5 separate regions of the Homo sapiens genome follow, and all the other regions are linked to region 5. The links come from fine-mapping of genetic effects on gene expression. A gene starts in region 5. Each other region holds a variant in brackets. All regions are shown on one strand. Distances are between the middles of the regions.

Region 1 (5,106 bases), 32 kb before region 5:
AACTTTCAGTGCCTTTAATTCTTTGCATATATGTAACCTTTGGGAAAAAATATACATTGCAGGGTTTGACATTATGTATGAATTCTATGCACATAGATTGACTGCTACTGAGTCTCCAGGAGGCTTTGGAGAGAGCAAAGTGGCACTGAATTTGATCATAGAAGACAGAATCATATTTTTAAAAGAATTCTCCCAGCAATTCAGCTACATAGCAAAGGTTTGTCACTTTTCCTCTCAAACCCTTCTGGCTGTCAGTGCTCTTGGAGGAAGGTAAGGAGGAATGCAAACAAACTACTGGGGTGAAATCCAATAATAGAGTTGGGCCCTACTGGGGGCTCCTGGGAAGAAACAGCCCATCTAACGTTACTTCCACTGCTATCTCATTGTCCAAATCCTGCAATTAAAACCTTTCATTAGGCCAGGCGTGGTGGCTCACGCCTGTAATCTCAGCACTTTGGGAGGCCGAGGTGGGTGGATCACCAGGTCAGGAGTTCAAGACCAGCCTGACCAACATGGTGAAACCCTGTCTCTACTAAAAACATAAAAATTAGCTGAGTGTGGTGGCACACGCCTGTAATCCCAGCCACTCAGAGGCTGAGGCAGGAGAATCGCTTGAACTTGGGAGGCGGAGGTTGCAGTGAGCCGAGATCGTGCCACTGCACTCCAGCCTGGGTGACAGAGCAAGATTCCATCTCAAAACAAACTTTCATTAATACCGTACCTTACAGACTTAAGGTGTGGCCAAAGAAGTGATCCTGTCTGCTCACAATGCCAGCCATTTTCCCTTTGAAGCAACCAGGAGAAAGATTTAATGGGGCCTCATAAATGGGTAAGGGAAGAAGTACAGCCAACATCAAACTGAGCTACTAAGTCAGGCTTTCAACTCAGGCTTAGCATCCTTTCTGCTTCAGCACAGTAGCTTCACTGAGTCTCTGCAGCTTTAGGGAGCCATTGCCTGAGGAAGTAGCTGGTGATGATGGCCATTTTGGAGAGCCTTGGGAGAGGATGCAACACACTATAGGAGGCTGAGGTGCTTAGTCTTCTGGGCATGCAACAGACATGGACAAAACACTGCTGAATGGCAGTAAAATCTGCTCAGCGTTCTTTGCCTTGTTTATGATCTTCTTGTTATTTAGGAACTAATTACACAGTCTGCAGAGTGTCTCTGTTCCCAGGCCTTGTGCTGCTCTCTGACCACTTGCCTGCCTGTTATTTCTGTCTGTAGACAGAGGTCAGCAAGAGAAGCCATCAGAGTTTAATCAAACTTCTCCCCCACTTGTTAACATCAGTGACAAAATCTTTGATGAGAACAGAATGTTTCATACTTGGCTATCAAGGATTCGGGGATCTAGGGATTATTTATGGATTTCGTTAAGCACTTAATTCCCATCCACTGCTATTGTGAATAGCTGAGGTTTTGCCTATATCCCTAACACAATTTCAAATCTGCAGAGGGGCTCCTATGCCCTGAAGTGCTGAGCATGTTCAGGTTGTCATGCCTATCCAAGAATTCTGGGTTGCACAATACAAAAATATGCAAGAAGCACTTGTGTAGGATTACAGGGCAAGACAGGTGAAAATGTTTTAAAGTGTAGGAACATCTCACTTTGAACAATAGAGCTGTTTCAGAAAAAGTTCTTGTAAAATGGATTTATGAACATTTAGTTACATTTTAATCGACCAGAGGAGTTGATAACTCAAGGCTCACTGTGCAATGAGCTCTTTTGCAGGTGCAAAGTATTTATGTGAAGAAATAATTCCCTCCCCATTTAGCTTTTTATGAATTTGAATTTTAATATATCAAGTTGTCTTAAAACACCTGTATAGCTAAATCTGCCAAGATGCTTTTCACTGAATATCTGGTAGATGAAGGAACTCATTCTCCCAGGGAAATATTATAAACACTTTCAAAGCTGAGAAATGCTTATTGTAAATTGAACATAAAGTTTTCAATGGGCCACACCTAATTAGGTTTCTACGCCTCTTGAACACTCACTCTCCGCATATGGGAGAAAAGCAAGGAGAGCAGTTCATATAGTCAGGTTTAGAAGTTTTTGCTTTGTTTAATGTTAAATCTATTTGTTATTGTATTTATGTATATTTGTTTCTAAATATTTATGTATATTAAGTTTCTAAATCTTGTATCTTTGCAAATACTTTAATCACTTGCCTACAGAATTTTCATTTAGATCCAAAGAATCAGAATAAGCTCATTTTCATTTATAAATTTCATCTTTTTCTGCTGTTTATGCCTCATCTTTTCTCTTCTACTCCTAAACAAAAGCTTGTGTTTTTAGCTCCC[A/G]TTTTCCAGATGATTGCTCTGTCTTTGCTGTCATTTGTGCAGACGGCTTCAGAGTTCCTGCACAAGCATATAGTGCCATAAAAATAAGCCAGATTTTTTTAAAAAAATGTTTAAAACATAGTAAATCTGCTTTTGCCTACTGTTTGACTTTCTCTTGGCTCACTGCCTGAGATCCATTAGGTACACTTGGAATATTCTAGCCCTGGACACGAAGGAAAGAATTTGCTTTTAAGATTGCTTTGTACTATTTAAAGTCAGAGATGATAGTAACCAGAACAATGGAATTGAGCCTTGTTGCCAAGTCTTTTGGTTTATGGCTCTTCCTTGGCTTTGGTATTCATTCTCATCTTTGCATCTGAGATGAGAAGTCCTATTTTGGTTAATGACAACTTCCCTCACACATGCCTAATCATCCTTAGAGGCAGACCTGGAGGCTCTTTTGGTTGTTTAGGCATATGTTCATTTATAAACAAAAATGAGTGTATTCTGATTCTTCTGGTCTAAATGAAAATTCTATAGGCAAGTGATCAGTTAGTAACCTATCCCACAAGACAGGGCAGGAAAAATTAGAAATGGAGAGTCATGGAAGCTGACTGTATTGGTGGACACCACGTTTTAACCATAGTATTGTTTGTTTCTGGTTCCTAAGCACCAAGGGAAGTCTACTAGCATGCACACAAAGCCTCAAGAAGCTTCTTTACTTCAGGCATCTCCTTAGGCCACCTTGTTAAAGAATTTACTTTCATAATCAGTTTCTAAGAATCAGTATTTCTTTTCCTATTTTCCTCCACTTGGACATAACATGATTAGAACAAAGAGTTCTCATGCTTTGGGACTGATCAGAATCATCACTAAAGAAAAGACTACCAACAGTCCTACCTTCATGTAGGAACTCTGTTGTTTTCCCTCCACTTGCACATCATAATGGCTGTGAGAAATGAGGCTCTGGAGGAAATCAATTCACATGGAGCCCCATCTTCTTGGAGGGCTCTCTGGGAGGGGCAACTGCACCAAGATTTTTGTTGAACCATATTTGCTGCAACGATGACGTGTCCATCACACTCATATCTCTCGAGAGGCCCCCTGGGAGATAGTGGCATTTTGCAGTGAGTGTGGCCTATTCTGGGTCATACCAAGGACTATTTGGATCTATCTAATTTAGGTAAATAATGATGAAATACATAGGGGTTTTCCCTGTCTTAAGAACTGGAGGATGTTTTCGAAGGCTTTCTTCAATCAGTGGGAGGGTACAAACACTTGAAAGTATTCACACTGGATTACTGGGTAAGACAAATTGCTCATAGCCACCCAGGTTAGAAAGATTGGGATTTAACATGACAAGCAATCAGAGGCTGAATCGAATGGTTAAAGGGTCTGTGTCCCTTTGTAGAATAATCAGAGATTGTTAATGAAGCACAAACCAGAAAAATTGTTATTAGGCTTGTAAGTGCTGGTAATATAATGTGTCCAAAAATACATGGCAAAGCTTACTCTCCCTTAAAAAGACACAAAATTTACACAAAAAAATTTTGTGAAATGTGTATGGTAAAATCTTTATAAAAGCTGTGAAATGTGCAATTGATTTGGAAAAGGGTTAATGCCAGAATATTTTAAAGCTTTACTCCCCTCCTTGCAGTGTAATCCAAAGATGTCTTCTGTTTTTTCCTTCCTTTATAAACTCAAACTCTTAATTGAAAAGCAGTCTGTGTTACTCAATATGAATGAAATAAGTACACTTGGGTCAGGTGTAGGGTTGGGTTGCTTTGGACAGTTTAAAAAGATTCTCCTCTTAGCCCTTATCTGTTTGTTCCCTGAAGGATTTCTGTATCCCTTCAGGCAAACCAAGCAGTAGCAGCAGCAATAATCTTATTTACAAAGGGGGCAGGAGGGCAGAGGGCTGGAAATCCCAAGGGCTAGTGCTCAATATGGTCCCTGTCATCTTGAGATCAGAGGGTTTGCCCCAGCCCAGGTGAATAATGACCAAGAACACTTTGTGACTGATGACTCTGCTATGTATGGGGAGTTAATTGATGTCCCTCTGTTCCAAGTGAATAATCCACTTTCTAGCAATGATGGTAATGTCATCAAGTGGGAAAATACACAGCCAGCTAATGTAGAAACAAGATATAGAGTCCCCACCCCCACCCCGGACTCTCTTCTGGGCAAGCAGGAAGTGATACTTTTACAGATACATGCAATGCTTTTAAAAAATCTCCGAACTAGCAGAACTAGGAAAAAAGCTATCTAAACTTTGACCTTTTTGACTAATATTATGAATCTTCTCAGACCTCTGTAAACCACAACGCAGGTGCATCAAGAACAATTAATCACCTTAGCATCTATGACCCTTGGTTATCTGGCCCTCCGCCCTCATCCTCATTACTCTCCTTCACGTACCATGTCCCATACACATGAGACTATGTGTCATTCACTGGACATATCACACTGTCTTACATCTCTCCCCTCTTACCCCCAACTCACCATAATTTATCTCCTTGGAGCTTCCTTTATCCCCATTTTTCCCTTTATTCTTTTCATAGCTAGCTCTTACTTTGTCTTTAGTGCTCTATTCAAGCATCACCTCTTCTTCCTAAATCAGGTATTTGTGCCCTTTCTAGTTTCCCATAGCCTCCTCCATTTTAGCATTGATTGCACTGTGTTGCAATTATCTTTTTAAGTGCTCACCTACTTTCATTAGATCTTCAGTAATTTGATGGTTCACCATGGTGGATATATGCACAGCACAGTTCACTTATATAGAAATTGGCTTATGGGTCTCAACTCAGTAACCTAATAGTTAAGAG
Region 2 (5,106 bases), 200 kb after region 5:
CCCCTTCAATTTATTTAAAGCTACAAGTAAGGGCAACAGTTCACCTGTCAGTCAAAAAGCACCGTGGCCCAGAAACAGGAAGAGACACACCCTTCATGGTCATAGAACCTACATGAACTTTGTGGCTGAGCTTTTTGACCACCTCACATGCCACTGAAAGCATCAAGCCAACTACCAGACTTTTAGAATGGGCATTTTATTAAAGAGTTCACAGATTTGAGATGGGGATAAGCAACAGTCTAGCTGTACTGGTTCTTTCTTTCTTCTGGAGTGGGTACACAGTCACTGGAAGTGCTGAATACAAGGGAGTGAGTGTGGAGAATTTAATTATGGGTGTTGATTAGGCAGCTGGATAATTGGGACTGACAATGGTGTCTGTATAGCACAACAAGGCAGAAATGGTCCTGGTCAATGTAAAATTGGTAAAATTTGCTGGGTTGTTTTCTCTCTGAAGATCTGAATTTTGACTACAGTAGTCAAGTATTCCCCTAATTGTGTGTTCTGTCTGCAAATGTATTTAGGAAGATTTTTTATCCTGGGACTTTATGAACAACTCAAAGTATAAATGGTTAGTAAAACTGAAAAGGGTTTAATGTGGCTGCTAATAAATAATATAAATAAAAATGATAATCCTCTAGCTTTTATCTGTTGTCCATCCTAATACTGCCAAGGATGGAGTTAGCAGGTACATTCATGTACTGAAGGGGCAAGGGTAACAAAATGTACCCTTTCTGTAAAACAGGGAGAAATTCATAATTTTCTAGCCAGTATTTACATTCTTAGGAGCCCTAATTCCCAGTACTTGGCAATCTATATTTTCATTATTCTGGTTAAGAATTACCCTCTCCTCACTAATGACTCAGAGGAATATAATGTTTCAAAGCAGAATTTCTTGACGTAGTTTCCACAGAAAACTTGTCCTGTTCTTTTGACTAATCATTTCAAGATCTGAAAAATACAGAGTCCTGGATGGTCCCTAGGGACTTCCATGATGAATGGTTGACATATTAATACTCTAAGAAATCATGCAGTAAAAAGACTTGCCTAACATTACCTTTTTTTTATTTCTCACAAATTTACTTGACCATGGAATCTGTTGGTCAGATTATACCTATCAACCTCCTCGGGTACTTTACAAAACCCTGTCCTACAGCAGAAATCCTCATAGAATGCTGTCATGGAGAAGTTAACCATCTGCTCAATGCTTTCTGCAAGCTCAGGAATCTCTGCTACTTTACCCTCAAGGTGAGATCACACAAGTCTAGTAAAATGAACTCACTATTTCACAAGGATGCCATATGGCTACTAAAAACTTCTTCCTTATATTGAGCCTAAACTTGTGATTCAGGAGCACTCACTCATTGCTACTAATTCTAGTCCCTGGAGCCACACAAGTTAACATTTTCTTCTATTTGGCAGGCTTTCAAATATCTAAAGATAATGATTATATACATACTGAGTTAATACATACTACTACAGGTTAACAAGCTCATGTCGTCAAATTTTTGGCTTGTGATGTTATTTTCAGTTCTTCAACATCCTAATTTTCCTCAATTATGCTTTACTTTGTCAATGTCCTTCTTATAACATAACCCCAAAGACTGCAGTTATGACAATATTATGGATATAATTAGAGCATTTAAAGACAGTGGGATTATTACTTCCCTCAGTCTCAACTATCACTTCATAGATTGCCACAGGTTGTGTTTCTGGAAAACAGGCTCTGAGATAGAGATTAGTGTGTGGGATCCACACCCACGGAAGGAAGAGATGGAAGTGTGACAGGACAAAGGGAGAAGTTGAGTAGAGATGCAGGATTGACAGAAATTGTCTCTCAGAGTTGACAAGTTGGCGATAACCAAGTTTAGGTGAGAAGGCTTACCTTCTATACCTTTCTCCTCCATCATCCATTCGTCACTGGATGAAGGCCACCTAGAAAGGGGGTGTCATCTCCTTAAGAAAGGCAATCCCCAAAGGG[A/G]CTGTCACCTGAGGGCTGGCAGCTGGCCACACTCCCAGCAGTGGAGGGAATAAGTCTTCCATTCCTGAAAGCTGTTCTGACAGCACATGATGGCATCCATCATACAGCTCATCCATGACCTTATAGACCCCAATGAGGGTTTATGTTAAACTCGACTGAGGACCGTGAATGAGTATCAAGGAGGTGAATGACATGACTGTTTTTGCATTTTTAGTGGCTCACTCATGCTATTGTACAGAAACTAGAGTGGAGCCAGGGTAGAAGCAGAGGAGACAGTCAGGAGGCCAGGGCTGAAGTCCTGGGTGAGACAAGGCCATGGCAGGGCCTAGAATGATGGCAGTGGGTGAACATGGAGAGACGTGACTACAGGTGGATCTATTTCAGAGAGAGAGCAGTTAGATCTTGTAAACAAAGTGAAGTCGATTGTGAGGAGTGAAATGGGGTTGGACATGACTCCAAGGGCACTGGCCTGAACCACAGAGGGAGGAGGGAAGTCATCACCAGGACAAGGAATACTGGAGGAGGGACCATTAGGATGAGGGTACAGAGGGGACATGCTAAGTTTGATGAGTATGAGACATCCAAAAATATAAAGTAAGCAGTTGTAAATATAGATCTGGAGCTCAAAAAAGAAATCTGAGCTGGCAGTATAAATTTGGGAGCCCATCGATGTGTATTGAGCCCTTGGAAAGAGATGGATATTCCAGAAAGATCCTATAGAATGAGAAAGAGAGAAAGGAAAAGGAGGTCCAAGACAGACACTTGAAAGGCCCCAAAATCGAGGGGCTGGTTAACAGAGGGTGACATACAGAGGAGACTGAGAAGGAAGGAGAAGAGAGAAGAGCAGAGGGAAAGCCAGAGGGTGTGGTGCCATCAGAGCCAAGGAAGGAGAGCATTGAGGAAGGAGGGAGCAGCAGTCGGCGGCAAATACTGCAGAGGGGAGAGTGAGAGAAGAACAGAAATGCCCAAGGGGAGTTATTGCTGAGTCAGCACTGCTTAGTAAGCACTGCTTCAGACAGACCTAAAAGATGTGAAGGGAAGAATAGAAATGCTTCTGTTTTATTTTGTTGTTGCTGTTGTTATTGCTATATTTTCAGCATCCTTCCTTCTGGCCACCAAGCACATGGCTTGGTGAAGAGTGGTCATCACATCGGCTGGCTGGCGTCTGGGATGGCACATGGCCCAGGCTGTGCCATCCCCTACTGTGTTCATTGTCCATGGCTGCTGTAACAAATGACCCAAAACTGGGTTGTTTAAAATAACAGGAATTTCTTCTCTCCTATGCTGGAGGCCAGAAATCTGAAAGGAAGATGCCTTCAGGGTCATGTTTCCTCTGGAGGTTTAGGGGAATATCCATTCCTGAGCTGTCCCAGCTCCTAGTGGCTGCTGGCATTCCTGGGTTTGTGTCTGCATCACTCCCATCTCTGCCTCAGTGGTCACATTTCCTTCTCCTCTTCTATGAGTAGATCTTATTATATCACTTATAAGTACACTTGATATGGCATTTTGGGTCCGCTTTGCTTGGAAATCTCCTTAGCTAAATATCCAAGTTCATCATTTACAAGGGATGCTGTCCACACAACTCTAGGGCACAATTCAGCTAAGTTTTGGTCACTGCATAACAAAGATCACCTTTCCTCCAGTTTCTAATAAAAAGTTGAGCCTTCATTAGAGGTGTCTTCAATGTTTATATTTCTACCAATATTTTGTTCAAAGCAATCTAGATTTTTTTTGCTGTTGTGCACCTGAAAATTCTCCCAGCCTCTGCTACTATTTAATTCCAAAGCCATTTATAAACTTTTGGTACCTGTTAAAACAGCACTGCATTTCCAGATGCCAAAGTCTGTATGATTTCCTATGGCTAAGCTTCTCCTCCTGTCACATCACTCATCTGAAGAGAAGGCACAGACCCCAACAGGGGCTCACCAGGGGCCTTCTCTGGGCTTTTAAAAACTTTGCCTGAAGTGAGAAGATCCTTGTTTATTCTCTAGTTAGGACTGTTAGCCTATGAGTCTAGGGTTGAAGGCAACCAGGTTCTCAGTAAGGTAGAGAAAGTCGATGTTGTCTATCTAGTCTGAAAAAGAAGGAAGCCAGCACACTAAAAGCACAGACAAGAAACACATATAGAGTGTGAAGGTTCATTTTGTATCCCATTTTCTACATCCCATTGCTCTTGAGGTCATGATCAAGCATGAGAGACTCCTTTAGATGTTGAATAAACAAAGCGGGGGGGGTGGTCTGAGGGGCAGAGGACACTTGGAGAGAGGGTGGCTCAGGAGGGAAGGGGTCAGCAGCTCCGGCACTGCAGAGTGTAGATAAGAAGACTGCAGAGACTGCCCTGGGTTCAGCCATCAGGAGTGACTGGTTAATGCTTGAGAACACAGCTCTGGGTGAGGACTGAGGCAGGATTGGAAAGGATTGGCCAGTGAGAGGGAAGTAAACAGGCTCAGAAGGGCACATGGGGATGAATGAGCTTTTGGTAGGAGAAGGAAGAAAACACAGTAGATGCAGGTAGGATTGGCAATTTATTGGCAGAAATATGAGGATTTTTATTTTCTCTATAAAATATGAGGCCAAGTCTGTTGTGCATGAGAAAGAGAAAAGCAGTAAAGTGTGCTGGGACTGGGAATGAGGGTGATAGACAGGAGTTCTGGGGGCTGAGAGTTTTGAAGAAAATGGAGAAGATAATAAAGTTAGTGAGGATGATGAAAAAATACCTGACTTGAAAACCATCCAAAATTGCCTGGCAATTTTGAGAGCCTGATTGAGCAGCCCTGTGAACCAAGTCACATTGCTGCTCATATTCAATTTGGGGCAGCCAAAGTCTCAAGGTCTCCAAAGGGTTATCAATCCAGTCCTCCTTGCTAAAGAAAACTCAGTCCTATGAGTTCAGTTCCTGAGCCTCTGAAGCCAAATGGAGATTGAGTAGAAAGAGATAGAACTGGGGAAAGGGAGGGGATGCTGCGCTGCATAGGGTTGAGATTTATTTTTGACCAAGACTAAGGAATAAAGGCAGAAAGAAAAAGGAAGAAAAACCAAAGGCCATGTTGGTTAGGACAGAGTTTAGTTTGGGGAGTTGAGAGTAGGAAGGAAATTAAGGGAGCAGCTGCCTGCCAGTGGGGAATGTT
Region 3 (5,106 bases), 290 kb after region 5:
AGGAGTCTGTTTTCTGTTATTCTATATAAGAAAATGTATAACATGTAATGCATTATATGTTAACCCTATCTCTCAACTAGTTTTCTTAAGTAAAAACATTGTTTTCTAAAACAAATAATTCCATCAAAAAGTGAACAAGTTACATGAATAGATATTTCTCAAAAGAAGATATACAAATGGCCAAAACTAACCTATGAAAAAATGCTCAACATCACTAATCAGGGAAATCCAAGTCAAAACCACAATGAGATGCCACCTTACCCCTGCAATAATGGCCATAATTATTAATAAAGCCTAAAAACAATAGATGTTAGTGTAGATGTGGTGAAAAAGGAATGCTTATACATTGCTGGTGGGAATGTAAATTAGTAGAACCTCTATAGAAAACAGTATGGAGATTTCTTAAAGAACTAAAAATAGATCTACCATTCGATCCAGCAACACCACTACTGGATATCTACCCAAAGGGAAAGAAGTCTTTATATCAGCACGTGCATGTTTATCACAGCACAATTCACAATTGCAAAGATATGGAACCAACCTAAATGCCCATCAACCAATGAGTGGATAATGAAAATGTGAGCTATATATGTATATATACACACACACACACCATAGAATAGTACTCAGCCATAAAAAACTTGGATAGACCTGAAGGCCATTATTCTAAGTGAAATAACTCAGGAATGGAAAACCAAATTCTGCAAGTTCTCACTAATAAGTGGAGGCTAAGCTATAGGTACATAAAGGCATGCAGACATAATGGACTTTGGAGACTCAGAAAGGGAAGATGGGATGGGGTGAGGGATATAAATCTGCATATTGGGTACAACATACACTACTCAGGCGATGGGTGCACTAAAATCTCAGAATTCACCACTATATAATCAATCTATGTAACCAAAAACCACTTGCAACTCCACAGCTATTGAAATAAAAAATGTTATTTGAATACAACATTGTTCTCTGATTACCAAACATGTAAAACTGCATGCATACTGTGAACATTATGTTTACAATATGGCAAAGCAAATAACAACAGCAATAAATAAATTTTGTCAGAAAAAGTACAGTGAAATTTTTTAATAAAAACAAGACAATTACCTGTAATAAACTGTCACTCACTGAGTGAGGAGAAAACTTGATACTTGAAAAAACTGAGAGAGAAGGAGAGCTGACAGTAATTGTCACTGGTTGTGGAAAGTGCTCATGTGGATGAGTGGGATGATAAAGAGTAATTTCAAACAAACCATCCAACTCAGAAACTAATGGAAACTCTCCATCATTTGTCACTGCTGAAAATGCACCTGAACAAAAGGGCCATGAAAAATTGTCAAAGGAGGTGACCAACATTTAAGGGAAAAAAATTTGTAAAATGTAGCTTTGTTTAAAATCCCATTATTTGCATTTGTTTTCTTCTTTCTTCACACTTTTCTTCAATACTTTTTAAAATTGTGTGTGTGTGTGTGCCTGTGTACATGTGACTCATTCATCACTAGTCAAAAATAGAGGCTAAATACAAAGGCACTTCGAAAATGCATTCAGGACAAGTATTACAGTGGCAAAGGCCAGTTCCCAAGGAGTGTGAGCTGTGTTGTCTCGCTTAGGGCCAGCATCTCCTTTTTGCTGGAACTCTGAATGCTTTTCAGAAAATCTTCATGAGATTCTGATGACTTATCCATTGTATTTGGAATGTAACCTGATACCTTTCCAGCACATCATTTTGTTAAAAATGCTATGAGTATTTGGAATGTAATTAGACACCACTTCTACATAACCATTGGCTGATAAAAATTTATATTCAGAGATATGTTCCATGATATTTGGTTATTGAAAAGAAGTATTCTACTGGAAACATACTAGTTGAAGAAAACTCTGAAACATATGCTTGTATTTTAATTTGCTTTCACAATCTGATTATTCTTTTCCCAATTGTATTTACATTCTCTGTTCTCCTCCCTACCTCTTTCTTGCCTTCAAGTCCAAATGTGGGCTGGTTTATGATTATTAATTATCAGAGAAGATATTAGACATTGTACTTTCACATTTTCAAAACCAAATTCAAGTCAGGTAAATCACCTGGCTGTCCCCTTCCATGGGATGGCCTTCATTTCACATTTTCCATTGCACTAAGTGTGCACAAAGTCCTGGCTGATTTGGAGGTCGCCTCTTGAGACTCTCCTGGCTTTAGCTGGCATTGGCTCTCCTTCCCTGTGTCTGTGCTGCTGCCAAAGCTGAAGCACGAGGTCTCAGTACAAAAGCCAGCCTCAGTGCTCCTGCCACCCAAGGTTCTGCTTTGACTTTAGCTCCCACCTCTGAGAAGTTCTTACTTTTGTACCAGTTCAACAATGAATTCTGAAAGATTTTTTTAAAAATTATTTCACTTGTTCCCATCAAAAAGACCGAGGAGGGCATCTGATCTGCCCGCACCACCCCCTTTATGATGTCTTTATTATTACCCATACCCAGAGAGTTGAAAGACTGCCAATTAGTAGCTTCATTTGTGCTAAATAAATCCAAAAATAAACTACAGACCAAAGAGTGCTATAATGTTTTAATGTGGCAAAATGCAACTTAAATCATAAGAGTAAAATTCAGGTGAATTGTTTATCCAACTGTCACAGAGGGCTTGTATTAAGCTTAGAGAGGCAGGTTGCTCACCAAATTTAGCAGGTTTACTGAGTTTGAATAGGGCCATTACTATTTTGGGATATCTGTTTTCAAAAATGTTACACTGTTTTTGTTCAAAATAACATTCTTATGAACACAGGGAAAAGCCTGGTAAAAAACAGGGATTATCTCTGGGTGATGGGAACTGTGGCTAATTAGCATGTTATTTCTGCTTATCTTTTTCCCTAAAAAGTCTACAATACACGTGTTTTATTTTTGT[G/A]AAAAGAAAATTGGCAATAGGTTTTCGAAGGCAAAGATATTATATAAAATATAGCATTTGGGGACAGGGAGAGAGTACCTACCTGGGGGCACCAGAAGATCAGTGCTTTGCTGTAGATACCACTGTGCAGACAGGTGCCTTTGATCAGAAAGAAGCAGAAAAAATTATAAGATGACGTGTGGTAGTAAATGGCATGGAAATGTTTAAGCATGGCAAACATAGCAAAGAATAATTTCAAAATGTTATAGGTCTAAGCACTCAGGAAGATATATTCCATTAACTCATAATAAAATGATGTAACTAGAAGATGTAAAATGAAAACAGTTCTTTTGAAGGCTGACAATGAAAAAACACTTCCTGAAATTGCCTAAGATTAGAAAATATATTTAAATTTTAATTAGGATGATTAATCCACTCAATATTCTACACACACAGGAAGGTACAAGGAGAAAAGCTGGCTCCTGCTTGAGGAAGCCCTTGCTGATGTCAGCAGAGTAGCTTCCTTACACAATCCATTCATTCAATTAGCAAATACTGTTGTGTACCTACTATATGCCAGGTACCACATTGAGTCCTGGGACCCACAGACAATAGTATATCATCTGTGCCCTCAAGAATCTTAAGCTTCTTTTAGGAAGATAGATTTGTACATGCACTACAGTGTAGCATGATAGAAGCATGTATATTAAGGACTAAATCCCTTCATGGCTTCCCCACAGCAGTGTTCTCTCCTATCTCCTGGCCATGTTATTAAGGGTCTGGTTTTTAGTCTTGGTATCTGACCTGTGTTCTCCAGTCCAGCCTCATGGGTTCAATTTTACTTGGTATACCTTTGCTGAGAGCAAAAGAAACAATTCCAATCACCTATTGCTTAAACAAGAGGACTTAACTAAATTTACATTAGAGGAACTAGAGTTCCAGTTTGTGGTGGAACAGTCACGTCCAGACCCTGACCTCCTTTCTATATTGCACAGTCAGTCATTGATGGTTAGAATATTTGGCCCCCAAAAGTGGTCAAGAAAGAAAACTCAGATACTGGTACTGGTGTTTTGCAATAGAGGACATACAGATTGATGGCCTCTGATCTAGGAACTTTCAGAAACTGCTTTAATTTTATAGTTTCTGCAGAATTGAAAAACTGTAACTCAAAGGGTATCTTGGTGTGTATTCAGGAGTACAGGCATGTGATACAATTGCTCCTATTTCCAAGGCCGCTTGAAGACTTAAATGTGAGACAATAGAGAGGCTTGAGAGTATGATGGGAAAGACGTCCATAACTTTCTGGGTTTCATGGCCTATGCTTCCTAGGGCCTCTTCTAGAGAAACTGTCCTATCCCTGGGTCTTGAAAGAGCATCCTAGGGCCGGGCACCATGGCTCACGCCTGTAATCCCAACACTTTGGGAGACCGAGGCAGGCAGGTCACCTAAAGTCAGGAGTTTGAGATCAGCCTGGTCAACATGGTGAAACCACAACTGTACCAAAAATACAAAACATTAGCCAAGTGTGGTGGTACACACGTGTAGTCCCAGCTACTCAGGAGGCTGAGGAAGGAGAATCGCTTGAACCTGGGAGGTGGAGATTGCAGTGAGCCGAGATCGCGCCATTGCACTCCAGCCTGGGTGATGGAGCATCCCAAAGGGAACATCACTATTGAGAGAGTAGGTCAATCCAATTTTCAGAAGAGTTTGAATTTAGCAATGGAAACTGTAGTGAAGCAGAAGTCATAATATAGAATTGGAGCTGTGGGCTTAATGGGTCATGGGAAAGATGAGTAAGAGAAGCTAATGAAAAGGGCAAGAATACACAGATGAGAGAAAAGCAAAGAGAGAGATTGTGTAGCCCCAGATATAGGGAAAGCATTAGTTTTTCACTTTTGTCTCTGAATCTATACATATCCATGCAATGACCTCACATTCACATATAACAGCCCCTTCCTGGGTAGCTTGGATGGCTTTTTCTTTGAATTCTAAAGAGCCTCAACTAAGACAAATCAGAATACCATTGAGCAGAACCAATTTACTACTTGGCATAAGCAATATTCAAATGCTTCAGTGGGTAAACAAGCTGTAGTGAAAACCAACAGAATACTGCAAAACAAATGGAGAAAAATGCACTGCTGGCTACCATAACACCTAATCATACAGGGCAAATGGATTGCATGTTCAACTGGAAATTCAAAGAATAACCAAGATACATGCCACAGGAGACATTTTAA
Region 4 (5,106 bases), 50 kb before region 5:
TGGCTCAAGTCTGTAATCCCAGGACTTTGGGAGGCTGAGGAGGGTGGATCACGAGGTCAGGAGATCGAGACCGTCCTGGCTAACACAGTGAAACCCCGTCTCTACTAACAATCCAAAAAATTAGCTGGGCATGGTGGTGGGTGCCTGTAGTCCCAGCTACTTGGGAGGCTGAGGCAGGAGAATGGCATGAACCCGGGAGGCGGAGCTTGCAGTAAGCCGAGATCGCGCCTCTGCACTCTAGCCTGGGCAACAGAGCAAGACTCCATCTCAAAAAAAAATAAAATAAAATAAATAAAAAAGAACAAAATAAAAAATAAAAGTTTTGGTGGGAGCAGGTCTCTTTGTGTGATATATGTATATGGGGGTGGGGTGTGTATATGTGTGTGTGTGTGAGAGAGAGTGAGAATGAATTAATGAATTAATGTATGTATGTCTGTAGTAGAAGTTCTTTTTCCCAGAGTGTGTAATTTGTGTAAGTCCAGTCATAATTGGCTAAACAGGCCAGATCTGCAGTACCTATCTGTCTTAGTTTGCTCAGGCTGCTGTAACAAAAATGCCAAAGACTGGATGGCTTAAACAACAGGAAATTATTTCTCATAGTTCTGGAGGCTGGAAAGTCTAAGATCAGGGGTCCAGAATGGTCAGGTTCTGGTGAAGGTCCTCTTTCCGGAATATAGATGGCCATCTTCTCATTGTGAGCTCACATGGCGGAAAGAGAAAGAGAGAAAGCAGGTTCTCTAATGTCTCTTATTATAACAGCACTAACCCCATCATAAGGGATCCACCTTCATGACCTCCCTCCCTCCCAAATGCACCATCTCTAAATATCATTACACTGAACATTAGAGTTTCAACATATAAACTTGGGGGGTACACAAACATTCAGTCCACTATCTCTCCACTCATGCTCTTTCCATATTCTGTTGACCCAGAGGATTCAGACCCTTATTTTCAAAGCGCCGTATATTCCTTCATGCTCTGGCTGACTGCCTTCTGCTTGAGTGACCCACCACCCTTTCTCTTCCTAGCTCCATTTTCTTCCTCTTACATGTACAAATCCTCCCTATCTTGAAAATGTCTTTATAGATTGAGTTTGAGTCCTAAGTATGGGTGTGGGGCTTCAGGAAAGTCCCTACACTTCTGAAGCAGGAACTCGTGTTTTACAGTTCCTAGGGTCTTTTGTTGCTGATTGGCTGAAAGTTAGGTAAGCTAGAGCTTCGGTAAGGGGCTTTTGTTCTTCTCCTCTAGACCAGATCACAACAGGAAGCCAGCCAGCCTGTTTCAGTGGGGTTATCAATAAAGAGATTTCTGACTTTTCTTATATTTTTTTGCTTTTTAAACACTTGCATATTTTTCTCTATATACCTCAGGAAATTATGGAATGATGAAACCTCAGAGTAGAAGAGATCTAGAGAGCAACTGGTTGTACAGCCCATATCAATCTTTTAGTTTTCTTTCCATCAGTTTTTTACCTGACTTCCCAATCTCAGCTTCATTTTTCATAGCCTCCTCCTTTACATTTTCATCTTGAGCATTAGATTGCAGCAGGGATACATTTATGTTTCTTGTTTTGACTAGAGAACACCCCAAGGCTGGCCCACAAGGAGGTGCAGATCCCTGGGGAATGGCCACCTGCGAGCAGTCAGCCTGCTCACTTAGCTACCTGTTGTGGATAAAAGCCCCATCAGTGTCAACTGTTGTGCTCAGAGCCCTGCCAGTGTTAATCCAAAATGAAACCATCCTTGATCATTGCAACCATGTTTCCTAATGCAAAACAGCATGGGCGCAGGCCAGTTCAAAAGGAGTCCTTTTACCCAAATGCAAAGGAAAAGGGTTTGGGTGACAACCATGTGAGTCAATAATTTTACGTTGCCTTGTAATCCTGCAGCTATTGGCATAAAATTGTTTGGCCTTTTAAAAGTCCTGATTATCGGTTCCTTGCCTTGACTGCTGACAACTGCTGAACTCCTTGCTCTACAAATGCCTCGAGCTTACTTCTGCCTATGTTCAACTTTATGCTTTCATTTGTTTGTTTCCTTTTATCCCCATGAAACCAATAGGCCAAATCTCCTCATGTTGTCTTTAGGCCTAGTTTCCAAAGAAGGCAAGTTCTTGCCAAAACCTACAGTTCATACTACACACACTATACACACACATACACAGAGAGAGAGAGAGCAAGAGAGAGAGAGACCGAGACCGAGAGAGAAAGAGAGCGCACACGAGAAAGTGAGAGAGCACAATTCCAAAATTATACCTTTCTTTGAAGGCAAAATTACCTTTGTGTCCACTTGCTCCTGCAGACTCTCCCATCTGCCTGCATCTTTTTTCTGCACCCCACTCATCCTGATCCTCTTGGTGTTTTATTATTAGAGATATACTTAGAGCCCTTCCAGGGAGACTCCAGATTCTTTTCAGGGCTTTTCAAAGCCTAGATTCTAGGGGTCTACAGTAGTTTACCTTTCTGGCCTCCCCAGGTGACCAGCAGCCCAGTGATGCTAACCAGATTTCTTGTCCTCCTGGTGCATTTATCAGAATCCCTGTCAGTTTCATTCAGGTGCTGAGCAGGAGGTAACACTGTGAAGAATAGCTGTTAACCAGTTCTCTCTGACCTCTATCGGTCCTAACTGACCCCAGAGCACAGCCCATAGGGATGCATTGTGCAGAACTAGCATGTTCATATGTCATTCTCTCAGGGGAGACTTTCAGCCAGGAAACAATCATCTTTATCACCTTTTTAAATGTACACGGTGGCTTTCCCATACACATATTCCTGTGTAGCATGTGTATTATTTTCATTCGTGGTCATTTTAACCACAATCAGAACTATAATAATATACAGTTACAGAGCACTCTGCATCCAGGAGTCTCACTGCATTTTA[C/T]AAACAGTAACTAATTGAGAGGAACTGCTGTGTACTTATTTGATAATACAGTTGTATCCTCTGTTTTAACAAAATGTTCAGTTCTTAACTGTTTATTGTCAAAGTAATTTCCTTCACATAATACAAATTAATGAGGAGAGAAAAAAGCAAATTTGTTTTTCATTAGTTACTAATTTGAGGATTTCCAAGCTAATTAATCAGAGTCTTTCCAGCCCATCCTTCCCACAACCCCTGCTTCTATACACTCAACAGATCAAACATTTTTCTTCCTAAGAATTTCATTTGCAGTTAAACATTTGTTTTGATTCCTTAACCTATACTAATTTTACATTGGCTTACATAGCTGCATTTTTTATAATTCTCTTTTTTCTTGTTCCCTCTCTCACGTAACTCACATGCACATATCAGGACATACACACCGTTTCTTGCCCATTTCTCTAGCAACTCCTCTTTTTCATTTAATCTCTCAAAATTATGCTTGCCTTTTTTTCTTTCTTTCTACCCTGGAATTTAACTCAGTGTCCTCAAGGGAGATATCTTTCAATTCGGAGTTATCTCCAAACACACACACAGACAGAGATGATAGCTTTCTGCTGCTAGGAAGATTATTAACTGCTTGTACAACTTTATCACATGATTTTTTTTGTGTTCTGACAGTTGCTTGTAAAATTAATATTTTACCTCAAGTTTTTCAACAGAGTTTCTATCATCATCACGTGTATTCTCCCTTATTGGGCTCACAGGCAAAACTCAATTATTAGTTGTGAAATAAAAGACTTTTCAGCAAAGACAGATCGCTCTGTTTGCATAGGAACTTCCCAGCAAGCCCATCTTCATGGTCCTGCAACCTGTGCAGTCTCACAGGGCCTGCGCTTAGAAGGGCCCCAAGCTTGATGTAATGCTCTGTTGTTGTGATCTTGAAATTCTTAATACTTTTTTAAACAGGAATCCCTGCGTTTTCATTTTGCACCAGGACCCACAAGTTATGCAGTCAGTCCTGCTTCCCTGGTGATGTTTGCTTCTTCCTTCCAAACCAAATACAGTACTGATATTTGTAGGTCCTGGAACCCCATGTAGTCAAAGGGGTTGGACTGGCTCCTTGGTGTGTATTATCGAGGTGGAGGATGCAATAGGCTACTCTCATCAGCAGAAACTTTCCACCATCCTGTTCACCTCCACTGAATCTCTTTTGAGTCTCTTAGGTCATTTGGTGACCTCCACTCCAACACATTTTTCTCCCCGGTCTTAGACCTCTGTTTTTCTTCTCTCAGCATTCCTAATCTGAACTTTGTCTCTCCCTCTTCTATCTCAAGTAATTTATCCTCAGATGATTGGGGGATGGCACAACCCAATAATTCAATGGTAGAGATACTAAAATTAATATCCAAAAACCTTTGGCCCTGAAGCCTGAGTTCAAATGTTCAACACAGCCGAAAAGAAATCTTCTGACAGTGACTAAAATGATGCCTAGAAGAAGCAACCACCAAGAGGTGAGCTGTGGGAGAAATAAAGAATCAGCCCTTTAAAAGAAAGGGATTCAATGATAGAGAATAAACAGAGATAAAAATAATACTGGGTCATTGGTTGGGCACAGTGGTTGACAATTGTAATCCCAGCACTTTGGGAAGCCATGGCAGGCGGATTTCTTTAGCTCAGGAGTTCGAGACCAGCCTGGGCAATGTGGCAAAACCCTGTCTCTACAAAAAAAAAAAAAAAAAAAAATTAGCTGTGCATGGTGGTGTGTGCCTGTACTTGCGGCTACTTAGGAGGCTGAGGTGGGAAGATAGCTTGAGCTCTGAAGGTCAAGGCTGCAGTGAGCCATGATTGTGTCAATGTGCTCCAGTCTGGGCAACAGAGCAATACCTGTCTTACAAAAAAGAAAATAACTGGGTCTAAGGAAAAGGCACCTATTCATTGCTTATGAAGATATATGCAAATAAATATGCAAAATGAAGTGAAAGGAAAGGGGAAAGGTCTTCCAATGAGTATAAAACTGATTGAATGTCAGCTGTCATCTCTTACTTAAGGGTCCATTGTAAAGGAAAGCTGAGACTATACTGGAAAACAAATGTGACAAGAACTGAACCACATCTTTCTCTTTTAAACATACATATACACACGCAACAACAATGACAATATTATTTTAGCTGGCTCGTTCTGTTGGTCAAGGGTCTTTATTGTTTTTCTTAGGTGCTATTATTTGTTAATGTATCTAGTACTTGATGTG
Region 5 (5,106 bases):
TTGGTAACATTTAACAATTTCACTATTTTACCATTTTGAAATGCCAAAAAGAACACACTGATCCTGCAGCTAGGCTTATTAGAGAAGAGCAATCTCACAGGCAAGACAGAGAGGAACATGGTCCACTGGGAAATGGGTAACAGAAAAAGACAGAAAACAGTGGATAACAAACAAAGCCAAGCACTACTTCAATGTGAGACCTGGTGTTCATCAGAATTTAAAACTTTACACACTAAATAATAATCACTTATGGCTTATTTAAGGTTCTAGTCATAACATTCTTTTTACATACATATATTAATGTTATTAAAATTCAGGGGCATGAATATCTAATTTGCTTTCCTAACAACGAGTATGCAAGCACAGTAATTTTATTTGTGAAAGGCCAGAATTGGGTATTTCCACCTTGTGGCATCATTGTACCCCCATGGACACTGAGAAACACAATGAGACCTCTCCCCATCAGACACTTGATACATACCTCAGCCAAGAGCGCTCCTCGCCTGGAGTGGGAGACATCTTTGAAACAAAAAGAGTCGGTTTACAGTAAGTTCTCCTGATAAGCTAAAATGGATTAGTTTTTTAAAACCATGTCCCACATCAAGTCTCTTGCCCCACTATGGTAACTGCCATTGTGCCTACAAATAAGTGCCTGTAGTATGCAATGTTTAAAATTCTGGAGGTGCATGTCTTCTGCTCATGTATGGATATAATCTGAAAGTAATTTGTCTCACTTAAGAAACTATAAATGGCCTTTTATTTTTATAAAATTGCTCTTAACTGAGTTAGAGAGCGGGGGAGGGGGAGGAGTACCAGGGAAAAAAAGGACAGAGAAAAATCAATTAGTGTATCTTCCCTTGCAAACTGTCAGTAGGGTAGGATTAGAAAAGCAACACTTTAAATCACATAAAGTCCTATGGGAACCTTAAAGGTTGGTTGCTCTGAGCTTCTCAATATTCTGCAAAATAGATTGATGTCAGTGGTGACCCCACTAATACTCAGTGTCCGCTAAGCTTCCTCTAAGAAATTGCATTTCCCCCATTGTTCAAAAGATATTAACTTGGTAATAAAAATGAGGAGAAGTTATGGGACCCACAGAGATATCTTTCAACACCTTTAAAACCAGTAAATCTGTTCTAATCTCTTATTGGATTACATGCCCGAGGAGGCTTACTATATCAGGAAATCAACAACAAAGGCAAGAATAGCACTTATTTGGAGGAAAATAAAAAAAGATGGGAGGCAAAATGATTAATACGTTACTAAACATTTCTTTTGTTTTTTTATCTGTTCAATTTTAAATATCTGAGAGACAATCTATTAAAATCAGAAACATGCATGTTGCTTTTAAACTTCCAAATGACCAAATGACAGTTTCTCATGTCTATTACAGCAAACATATTTTTATTTGAGAGGTGATCCGTTTATGATTTGTAAGCCTTAACAAGAAATGTCTTTTAAAAATGCAACATTAACTTTAGTCATCTAACAGCTAGTTCTGAGTTAAACGGTTCCATCAACATTCAATTTTAGGTATTAGTTACATGGACATTTGTTTTTCCTCAAAGAGAAGTGGTTCCTGTAGCTTTTTATCAAAAGTTTATTATTTGACATACATCTCTTTATATGACATTTACTATTTTACATTAGTCAGTTTCTAGGCTTGCAGCAGAGATCGATGTATTTCCCTGGGAAGACTTAGCTGCTAACATGGTTTATAGGCATTCAGCACCAACTCAAGCGCCCGTTTTTCAAACATGCACAATTACCCATTTTCTACAAACAGACATCAGTGCATACAGAGCCAGGTGCACACACATTCAATAAATAGTAAATGGTAGAAATCTCCAGAAGTAGAACAGATCACAGTTAACAGGCTGGGGCCATACAGCTAAGTAAACACCGACGCACGATTCGCTCACACGGAATAAGAACTCCACGAAGGACACTTGGGGACCACACTGGTCGTACCCGAGGGGGCGGGAGGCGGAAAAAGTATTTCCAAACGCAACTCTGCCAGGTCTTACCCTTCGCATCCCCTGGTCCTCGGGACAGAAGCTCCCTTGGCACCTCTCGCCCAGCTCAGGGGCTGGTTGTCCGCTAGAACGAAATATCCCCCACTGACTACGGAGAGCTCTGCAGGGAGCCGAGGCCCCCGCCCGGGCCAAGGGAAGGCGCTGGCGCCGCGGGAGACAAGAAGAGGCGGAGGCGGAAAAGAAGTGGAGAAGGAAGGGGTGGCAGAGGGAGTAGCGTGCGGGAGGCGGCGCCGGCGCCGGGCTGCTGGCGAGGCGGGGTGGGGTGGAGTGGGGTGTGCCTCCGGCGGGCGGTCAGCAAGTCAGTCCGTCCGAGCGCCGGCGTCCCGGTCTCCAGCGCCCGCCCGCGACAGCGACCGGGACTGGCGCCCCGCTGCTCCGACCGCCGGCGAGCCTCGCCCCTTCCCAGGCTCTTCACTGGGTCCTCCCGCGAGCCCCGCCTGGCCCGGCGTGGGGCCGCCCGTCTCCGCCAGCCCGGGCGCCCGTCGCCTCGTCCCGCTCGCGCAGTCCCTGCCGCTCCCTCCGCTCGCGCTGTCTCTGGCTCCCTCTCGCTCCAGTCCCATTTATGAAGCGCGGTCCCATCACGTGTTAATGAGCCTTTGTCCTGCCCTGGCAGCGGCGGCGGCACAGACCCCGCCGAGGGAACTGCGCGGGGAGGGACCTGAGCGCAGCGCCCGTAGCCCCAAACTTTGCTTGGGGCGGGGGACCCGCCGCGGCGCCAGCCCTGGGGCCAGAGGGGACAAGCCTCTTCGGCCCGCGTCACCTACTTCTCCTCTTCCTCCTCCTCCTCCGCCGCCGCGCTCCCGGAGGCCCCCGCTGCCATGACCTCGCTGTGCTCCCGGATACCCTCACACCCTGACCAGGCCAAGAAGGGGCTGGTGCATGCGCCGCCCACGACCTCGGGGCCATTAATCACACGCTCCCGGGCAGCGCGCATCGCCAACACCTTCCGCGGGGGTCACGTCTGGGGCAGCGGGCTGAGCCGGAAGGGGAAGGGGAGCGGGAGCCCAGAGGCCGAGGCGCGCCGGGCCCGGGGGTGCGGTCTCGCGCCCCCTCCCTCCGCGCAAGGCCGCTCCCGTGGCAGGCGGCAGCGAGCTGGGCCCGGGGCCGGGCTGAGCTTTGGGACCGCGCTGCGCAGCCCCCGAGCCGTTCGCTACCTGGCTGCGGTCGCGCGGCCACCTGTCCTCCGCCCTCGGGGCGCCGCCCAGCTTCGCGCCAGGCGCCTTCTCCAGCGCCCGCCGCCCTTTCCCGGCGAGACCACTCGGGCGCGCCCCGCCCGCCGGTCCCCGATGCAAACAGTTGGGCTCCGTAGGCGGCTGGCTCCGCGCCTCCCGGCCCGGCGCGCCCCCTCCCCGGCCACCCGGGGCCCCGCTCCTCGCACCTTTTCGCTGGAGGAGGACGCCCCACTCCAGGGCCGGACTGGGGGCTCTGGGACTCGGGGGCGGCAGCGGCGGGCGCCTGGGGAGCCGCGGTGTGCTCAGCAGCCGCGGCAGGAATTAGGGGACATGCTCGTTAATTGTTTCCACTATCAGCCGCCGTCTGCCTCCTGTGTGCACGGATCAAACCTTAATTGGTCTTTACATTTATCATGGTGAATTGCGAACCTCCAAACAAGCCTGGGCCGCCGCTTCTGCCGAGGAGGCGCTCCCCTCCCCTCCGCCCCCGGGGCCCTGCAGGGTGTGCGGCGGCGGTCGTGGTTATTTAGACATCTTTATCTCTCGTGAGTTGGATCGGGAGAGGATCGCACGGTTTCCACCTGACGGAGCCACGTCACGTCGGCCACAAGGGCCCCGTGCTGGGCGCTGGGTTCGGTTCCCGGCCGTCCTCTTGTGGCCGCCTTGGCGTTCATTTTATGACACCTTGCCGGTGTTCCCAGACATCATCCCGCACCGCTCCGTTTTACCGACCTCCAGGTCTTCCCGCCCCTGATCAGACCCCAACAGCAACCGTACTATATCTGGACCCTATATTTGAACTACGTGGTGAGAATCTGTGAAAGCGAGCCTCTCAGGGAAAGAAGGAAGATTGTTGAGTTCAAGGTCCTGGAGGAGGGAAGGCTGTAAAACCGTTTTGGAAACGTCAGGCCAAATCGTACAAAGGCTTCCCGCAGAGCACTAGTGCAGTTTTTGAAAATCCCCCTAGACTGCTTTAGACTAGAAGTATTTCCGTCAAGCAAATGACCATTTGACTCCATTGAGAGAGAGAGTCCACCGCTGAAATGATTAAGTCCTACTAGGTGGGTGGTTAGAAAAGGTTATCAATAAAGTTCTGATGGACCCATCGATAGATGGAAGAATGACTGGGAGATAGATAGTAGATGTGGGATTAGTGCTGAGCCTTAACCCTGCTGCTTGGGGAAGGCTCTACTCACAGGCATTTTTAGCCCACCTCCATGGCAGAGACAGCTCCAGCGCAAGATTCAAAGGGAGGAGGCTTCAACATCTGTTGCTTTTTTCTTTTAGGGGTCGTGGTTGTTAGATTTTCCCTTCACCTCACACCCCTGGCAGTAGGAAATATTTGCAAAAATTTTCTCTCCTTATGACCTCGCAGACTCTGATTTCCCAAGAGGCCAGATGACAATAACTTCAAAGTCTCTCCTCCACCTGGCAGCTCAGTTTCAAATGACTGCTAGTAATTAAAAGAAAGGATCAAGGCAGCGCTTCCTCTGACTGTGATAAGGACATCTTCAGTCACAAGAAACCTGGGGGAGCTGGACTCCTAGAATGCTTTCAGGCCACAGGATTTCACTTGGGTGCTACCACCCTCCCCTGTAGCTGGAGGGCGTGAGCTGTTGGAGTGGCAGAGCTGTTCAACATCACTCAGCTAAACAACACTGACACACCCTGGTGGTGCTCCTTCTATAAGGAGCACTTTCCCACATGTTGATCTATACCTTCGTGGTGGTCAGCATCAACCTGTGAAAGGTATTCCATGGAAATCTTGTATCTCAACTCAGCCACACCAGCTTTTGCTTTTTCATAAAGAGGAACAATCTGATTATTGTGTCTCTAAGTCATCCCAAATATCTTCTGATTGACGTTGGGTTTCTTCACTGAATTCTATGAAATTCCAA

Alleles and levels. Positions count from the first base shown, and alleles are read on the strand shown. Sizes are in standard deviations (SD) of each study's normalised expression. Not every link is listed here.
With allele T in place of C in region 4, the expression in lymphoblastoid cells of the gene that starts at base 2,572 in region 5 is lower (moderate effect, 0.40 SD a copy in TwinsUK).

The links. PIP is the estimated chance that this variant, and not a neighbour inherited with it, causes the effect. A credible set is the group of variants that fine-mapping cannot tell apart.
Region 1: its variant is the best candidate, but not a certain one, in a credible set for the expression of CNR1 in whole blood (TOPMed, PIP 0.52).
Region 2: its variant is the best candidate, but not a certain one, in a credible set for the expression of CNR1 in fibroblasts (GTEx, PIP 0.69).
Region 3: its variant is the best candidate, but not a certain one, in a credible set for the expression of CNR1 in whole blood (INTERVAL, PIP 0.73).
Region 4: its variant is the best candidate, but not a certain one, in a credible set for the expression of CNR1 in lymphoblastoid cells (TwinsUK, PIP 0.83).

What each region holds. Positions count from the first base shown.
Region 1 is chr6:88,131,369-88,136,474 of GRCh38, forward strand. No RefSeq gene overlaps it. Among named protein-coding and RNA genes, the nearest start is that of CNR1, 32 kb to the right of the region's middle. The variant A/G (reference allele first, on the strand shown) is at 2,303.
Region 2 is chr6:88,367,362-88,372,467 of GRCh38, forward strand. The region is part of intron 2 of LOC105377885 (a long non-coding RNA gene); the gene reads right to left. Among named protein-coding and RNA genes, the nearest start is that of CNR1, 200 kb to the left of the region's middle. The variant A/G (reference allele first, on the strand shown) is at 1,979.
Region 3 is chr6:88,453,301-88,458,406 of GRCh38, forward strand. No RefSeq gene overlaps it. Among named protein-coding and RNA genes, the nearest start is that of CNR1, 290 kb to the left of the region's middle. The variant G/A (reference allele first, on the strand shown) is at 2,891.
Region 4 is chr6:88,113,839-88,118,944 of GRCh38, forward strand. No RefSeq gene overlaps it. Among named protein-coding and RNA genes, the nearest start is that of CNR1, 50 kb to the right of the region's middle. The variant C/T (reference allele first, on the strand shown) is at 2,880.
Region 5 is chr6:88,163,776-88,168,881 of GRCh38, forward strand. It overlaps CNR1 (cannabinoid receptor 1), which reads right to left and starts at 2,572. Exons shown (of 2, transcript NM_016083.6): 1 at 2,028-2,572. RefSeq lists silencers at 2,249-2,928, 2,989-3,428, 3,499-3,698.